2 linked regions of the Homo sapiens genome follow. The protein of the gene in region 2 purifies or fractionates together with the protein of the main gene of each other region. This does not show direct contact. Each region holds a gene or a part of one and is shown on either strand. Other genes may lie near its edges.

The links.
Region 1: the proteins of ADCY8 (region 2) and HACD2 purify together in Homo sapiens (affinity purification with mass spectrometry; one large-scale study listed by BioGRID and IntAct). This does not show direct contact.

The regions. Positions count from the first base shown.
Region 1 is NC_000003.12:123,497,844-123,501,673, reverse strand, and holds part of HACD2 (very-long-chain (3R)-3-hydroxyacyl-CoA dehydratase 2), read left to right. Parts: intron 1-980; coding exon 981-1,159; intron 1,160-2,033; coding exon of another isoform or gene 2,034-2,038; exon of another isoform or gene 2,039-3,830. UniProt on the Homo sapiens protein: Catalyzes the third of the very long-chain fatty acids (VLCFA) elongation four-step cycle (condensation, reduction, dehydration, and reduction).
Region 2 is NC_000008.11:130,782,771-130,786,154, forward strand, and holds part of ADCY8 (adenylate cyclase type 8), read right to left. Parts: intron 2,706-3,384; coding exon 2,613-2,705; intron 1,036-2,612; coding exon 921-1,035; intron 1-920.

The sequences.
Region 1 (3,830 bases), on a different chromosome or scaffold from region 2:
GGAAGTCTGTTGACCAAGGCCTGATTTTACTGTTGGAGAAAGATTCTTTCATCCACTGTTCTCCATGGCCTCTGAAAGATTTTTTTCCACCATCCTACTTAGTGTGGCTAAAATTGGCAGTGGGGAATATGTCTTCCCTTCCACTTCAGAGATTTTCATCACAATTCCTGTGCCCAGAAGTTTGTAGTCCGTTGCACATTGTGAGCCACAAACAGCCAAAGGCTGTTTAAAGTCTGAGCTGATGATTCCTTTAGCAATACTTATAGTGGCTTACAGTTCCATGGGACAGTGACTGCTCTCTGAATTCTTTGTGGAATATGGAGAACTCCTTTTTAAAGAGAAAACAATTATGCAGATTCCCCTCCCATGTGACGATAATTGTAATTGTGGGGTGTTTTGATTGGAAAATTACATAGTAACCAAAAGCTATTATGAATTTTAAATTTTTTTAATTGTATATATTTGATTTTTCACAATAGCATGTACAAACATTTGAAAAATAGTAGCAGTATACAGATGCTTATGCTATTTTTTTTGTTGTTCAGTCTTTGTGTGTGGTGTGGAATTCCTAGACCACATGTTCCAACACCTCCGCCACTACCACCCCAACCCCATCCCAAGACCCACAGGGCAGGACCCGTCAGTATAAACCATGACTCAGTTCCCCTACTTTACCAACATTTGGCATCACTTTAGTTATTTTAGAGCATAATTTTGAAGAGTTGTTTATTTTGTCAGACCAAATTTTGAGGCTGCCTGAACGGCCTTTATTTTGTCGTTAGAACATTTGGAAACATATACCTGCTGTAGGCTGGTTTCAGAAACTGGCTTGTAAAACCTGAATTTGAGTAGCAGGTAAACAGGAAAATGTATAAACAATCATTTTCTAAAAGACCAGTACTGATTAGAAGGGTGGGAAGTGCAGCTTCCTTCTAAAGCTGACTTTGAGCCTCAGTAATGAATATTTTGTTTTGTTTTAGGTACACACTTTTCATTGTGCTGTACCCAATGGGAGTGTCAGGAGAACTGCTCACAATATATGCAGCTCTGCCCTTTGTCAGACAAGCTGGCCTATATTCCATCAGTTTACCCAACAAATACAATTTCTCTTTTGACTACTATGCATTCCTGATTCTAATAATGATCTCCTACATTCCAAGTAAGTAAACAGTTATGCGTATATTTAATTATGTTTTAAAATTTGGCTCTACAATAACTAAATATCTTTGACTGTCTTTGCACTATATCCAAGTAAATGTAAATCTCATTTATTGGGAATTCTTGGTTTTTATTGAATGCTGACTATCAAAAGGAATTTTTTTCCAGTAGTAATTGAATAAAGATGAACCCTTCTCAATACAGTTGCCAAAATGCAGCCCTTCTCAGCATGTGGGTTTGAAACTGAATACCAGGCTAGGTTAAGTATGTATTGGGGAAAGTACTGAATGGAAAACAAAAAAGCCATTAAAGGCCTTACCTTGATTGTAGTTTTCTGTGTCTTAAGAACTGCTTGTTACAGTATTTGAAAAACATGATAAAAAGATTTTTGCATTGGTTACTATATCAAAATAGACATTTAACTTCATTTTGAAGGGATTGGTAGTTAACTAGAAACATAACAAAATAATAATAGATTTATTTTTTTCTAAATTTTTCATTTTCTTGTTGAGCACTGATTGGGACACAGTGTTCTCTTCAAGATGGTTTCCAATTATTTTAATAGTACTGCTGAAGATTTAAGTATATGGATAATCAAATGTGCCTATCAGTGTATTCAGTGACAGAGAAAAAGACATGTTTGATGTCTCTGTGAAGTGAGCCCTACTTTCTGAGGATGAGGAGTTTAGTCCTTTGCTGGAATTCTGATGTTCAATTATAAATCCTATGATTGATTTCTATATACCAAAAGATCTTCTTATAACCAACGACATACAGTGTTAGTGGTTCTTCTCATTTTGCTATTTCTATAACCACTGTAACTCTGAATCTTATTTTAATCTAGAAAAGATACTGTATTCTTCCCTAAACCCCAGGTTAAATCAGACAGGGTTGGACTTCTCCTCATTGCATGGCATCATCGGAATGAATCACCCTAACAAAGCGACATGCTTGTGTCCCTCTGTGGAAAATTGCATTTCATGCATTGTGAGAAAAAAACTACATCCAGATTTCATGTGAGTGTTTATCTTGCAGAAATTCTTGGATACAGTTCTGCTTCATGATTCATTTTCCACTCTTTATTCATGTTGAGTCCTCTCTAGTGCTGGAATCATAGCGACCAGAGGCCATCTCTCTTCAAATGTAAAAAGTGGTTGATTTTCAAACAGATGATAAATGTGAAATCATCTAAACTACTAAGTAATAAAAATTAACTGGTAGTTTATCACCTTTCTAATTTTGTTTTTTTTTTTTAGAGTTTCATTTTCCAGTCTCTAGAGCAGCAGTTCACAGTTGCAGTTTTACCACACCCGGAGTAACTAACACATATTATCCCAGTGGGCACCACAGGCTTTATTTGAATTCACCATAGTCAAATGAATAGGAGATATGTACCATATTGGGTGACTGGGAAAGGGGCAGGGAGGTTTTTATGAAATCAGATCCATAACAAGCTGCTTCCACACTGACAAAAATCTAGGCGTTCTTACCTGAGAGTTCCTGCAAGACTTCCAACCTCTCTAGGAAGCAGGGCTTCCTTCCAGGAACCACTCCCCAGGGCAGCCTCCATCTGTCTGCATGTTTGTCTCTTTATGCTCTGGTAGCCAACCAGTGCTGAGCTTTGCCTCTTCCTTCTGAGCTCTTGGTGTAGTGGCAGTGCCTGGGTACCACACGCAGCCTCCATGATGATAGCGTTCCTGAGGGAAACCCACTCCTGTGAGCTTTTCATCTTGGTCTTGAAAGAGATAGAGGAAAGAGAAAACACTGACCCCAGAGCCAGCTGTCTTTTAGAGCAGCAGTCCCCACAACCTTTTTGGCATCAGGGACCGGTTTCATGGAAGACAGCTTTTCCCTGGGCGGTGGAGGGGATGGTTTCAGGATGAAACTGTTCTACCTTAGATCATCAGGCATTAGATTCTCATAAGAAACATATAACCTAGATCCCTTGAATGTGCAGTTTACAACAGGGTTCACACTTCTATGAGAATCTAAAGCCACTGCTGGTCTGACAGGAGGCAGAGCTCAGGCAGTAATGCTCATTTGCCCACCACTCACCTCCTGCTGTGCAGCTCTGTTCCAACAGGTGGCGGTTGGGGACCCCTCTTTCAGAGAGTAGGGAAGGACTCTCCTCCCAACAGAAGTCTGCTTTCTTTACCTTAAGTAATTCCCCCTTGCAGTCTCAGCCTCCTTTTGGTAAGAGAACTTGGCTCAGTTAAAGTCTAACATAATTTCTTTTTCTAAGGCAGCTAACCTCTTGTAGACCGGAGAAAAGGGTGGATCTCAAATAATGATTAAAAGATTCCCTGCAAACCATTGACTCCTCACCCAGGTTCAAGATGGCACACAGACTACCTCTCCTGATGCGAGTCACCCTGGTGCCTGCTGGCCTCACTGTGCTGTGGCCTGAGCCAGCAGCTCTGGATGTTCTCAGTGGTTCAGGTTGTTACTGTTGAGGCCAGAGTGTACAGTTCATTCTGGCCAGCTGCACATTTCCAACTTTCCAAAGCTTTGTATTTATCAGAAGAAAATGCAGAATTAGGAGAGGTTGCTGTTGACATGCAGTCTCCTTTACCAAATTTGGTTTTCTTTCTAAACAAGGTAGCGTTCTTTTAATCTTTAGTGGCAAGTTGATGATACACATGTATTATATAAAGTAACACCTCCTTTTCATG
Region 2 (3,384 bases):
ATTCCTTAGATCTGACAAGTCAGATATTGGTATTTCTTGACCTGTTTTTCTTGAAAGCTGCTAAGGGAGAAGCAGATAAAGTAAAATGGCATATCAGCCAGAAGATGTCTACAGTGTGAGGACCGTAGCAAAAGTTATTTTAAACTGCACTCTGGCAGCCAGAATGTCATTGTCTCAGAGTTAGGAAATGCTGGAGCTGCTGCTGGTGTGACTGTGTGATCTTAGGCTAGTTACTCCCTTTTCATAGGCCCGCATTTACTCATCTACAAAATGAGAATGTGGACTAGACCAGGGATATTCAGACTGCATTTTAGGAGGTCACTGAGGCTCAGTAGAGATGTGGAAGGAATGGCAAATATAAAGGATTATTATTGATTGCAGTGATTAATGTTACGTTGTTGCTTTGTGCGGTGATGTCTTTAAGCCCAAAGAAATGGCGAGCTTTGTGGCTGAGTAAAGCCTGTCCCTGGAAGTATAGTATCTGCCATCCTCAGGAGTAGAATCCTGCTTTTGTCTGAAGGAATTATCCTGAAGACCTTGAGAGCAATACATTGACCACCAGCATTGAGCTACCCAGGAGTCAGAATTAAATGACTGATTAGTCAGCTACATCTCTATGCACGACCTTGCATGGGCAGGCAAGTTGGAAGAGGGGTTCACAATAGTCTAGCATTTGCCAAAGGCTGGCTGCTTTGTATTTCTGCACACAAGCCAGTATCCTACTCTTGTTTCCAGCATCTTGACTGAGAGGAAACTAAGAAAGGCCTGAGCTGACCTTGTCCCTATCCTTGGCAGGGTCATGCTAGATCTATTGCATTTTGCAGGAAAAAGCTTTCCTGGATTGATGCCCAAGGCAGGGGAGGGTCTGTTGGAGCAAGGTCAGCTGGCTCTATCAGGCCCCACCTGCAGCTGCTACTCACCAATCCGGAGTTCAAAATTGTTGAATGAATGCTTGTTGATCTCCTGTATGCTTTCTGTCAGGGCGAGTGAGAAGTCAGCCAGAGCACACAAATGTCCCCACTTGTCTTCACATTGCTGAAGCAAACATGAGGAGAAGAAATCATTTAATGCGGAATGTGGGGGAACATTAACATTTCTGCAGCAGGGGCTTTACGTCCTAACCCAACCCTACCTGCACATCCCTTTAAGGAAATAATCATGTGGGTGAGCCCCTCTACACTCAAGTCACTGGTATCTCAGAACATGGGAAGACATAAGATTTGCTTGCAAGAGTGTAGTATATGTGGGTCATTGTATTCCTTCTTCCACATCTACACCTGTCTGTTCAGGTTGATGTAGCATCAATTCCGTAGTGTATGTTCACTGGCATGTGTGTGAATGAGTGTATGTGTGTATGTGTGTGTGTGTTGGGGGTGTGTGGGCGTGTGGGTGGCCGTGAGTGTATGTGGGTATGGGTATGTGTGTGGGTATGGGTATATGTGTGGGTATGGGTATGTGTGTGTATATGTGCTCTTATGTATGTGTAGTTTTCCAGTCTAAGAACTGTGTCTATTTCCTTTGAATTGCTCACAGTGTGTGTTTAAGGGATACATTTGCTTACAAAACTCCTAAGGGAAGTGCTGCATAAGCCTCTGGGCCTCTCTGAACCTCAGTTTCCAAATCTATAAAATGGGGATAAGCATACTTGCCCTTCCTACCTCGTAGGTATTGAATGAGATTTTTTATATGAGAGAACTTTGTGCCCCTGTAGAACAGAGGTTAGCAAACAGTTTCAATAAAGGCTAGATAGCCAATATTTTAAGGTTTGTCGACCATATGGTCTTTGTTGTGACACTCAACATTGCCATTTTAGCTTGAAAGGAGCAATAGGCAAAATATAAATGAATGGGCATGGCTGTTTTCCAATAAAGTTTTATTTATAAAAACAGATGGTGGGCCAGATTTGACCTGTGAGCTGTAGTTTTCTGATCCCTGCTGCACACGTACCAAATAATAACCAGCATGAGTTTCATCCCAGATAGTCACTCTTGAAGTATTTTATTGTTTTTAGTTGGAAAAAAGCATACGAAGGATTGGAAGAAATTGATGAGAATTCCATTTCCCCAAGTATCTTGGACTCATATTCTTTTAACACTAATTGAGGACTTTACTAGATGCAAGGCTTTGCTTGGGGAGCATGACATTATCTGAGATAATTCATCCATTAACCCTGGAAGGTAGACAGTGTTGCCATTTAACACCAGTGCCTGGAACACAGTCAACACTCCAAAAAGCAGCAACTGTTATTATTATGATGTAAGACTTTTGAAAGACAAAACCAAAATAGGAAAAAAGAGGCTAGTATTAGGGGTTTAGTAAGATCCACAACTAAATCACAATAGGCTATTTCTGGGCTCTTGATTTTGTTCAAGGGAACAATGAGGTTCAGAACAAAGCCTAGAAGTTTCTCAAAAAAGCAGCGTGGCTTCATCTGGTAGACTCTACCTACCTTGGGGGCAAATCCACATCACGTAACTATTATAATCCAGTCCATTAGATTTTCTCCCCATCTTTCCCCAAGGATCTTGGTGACAGAGGCTTCACCACCGTCGGTGACATGACAACAGCAAGACCCCACCATGCATTGTGGCTGAGTCCAAAGAGTCCTTTACCTGTTTTTCAGGTGACAGGCCTGACACGGCCATGTAGGTGCTGCCAATGGTCTTAATCTTTTCAATGTCTTGAAATCGGTCTTCACCAAGCAACTGAAAGAGAGCCAGGCAATGGTGTTAGCCCTGGTGTTTATTCTTCCAGCAGCCTGGGCTCCTGAAAACAGGCCCCTGGCTCACAATGAGCTACCTCTGATGGTTCAATATCCTCTAGTTATCTGCTTTTCTCTCTGAGAATCATGCTTTCAGCCAGTCACATATATTTAATGAGCACTTGCTAAGGGTCAGGAGTGGAGATGGGTGTAAATTGGTACTCTTTAAGGAGTAGGTCTGCCCCTTCACATGTAAATCAGATCCTGTCCCTGCTCTGTGCCAAACCTCCTATGGCTTTCTGTTTTACTCAAGGTCAAAACCAGTCTTCACTGTGACTTGCAAGGCTTGCCAAGACCTGTCCGCTCTCTTATCGTCTCCCTCTCTCACTCTGCTCCAGCTGCACTGATCCCCTTTGCCCCTTGCCACACTGACCTGAGAACAAGCTCAGCCTGCTTTGGCCTCAGGACTTCTGCACCTGTTGTTCTCTTGCTGGGCTACTCTTCCCTGGGACAAGTGTATGGCTTACTCCCTCACCTCCTACAGGTCTTTCCTCAAATCTCATCTTTGCAGTGCAGTCTTCTTGACCACCTTATTTAAAATTGAACGCAGCATCCCATTCCCACATACATATTCTTATCTTCCTTCCCTGTTTTACCTTCTCTCCTTAGCACTTATCCCTGAT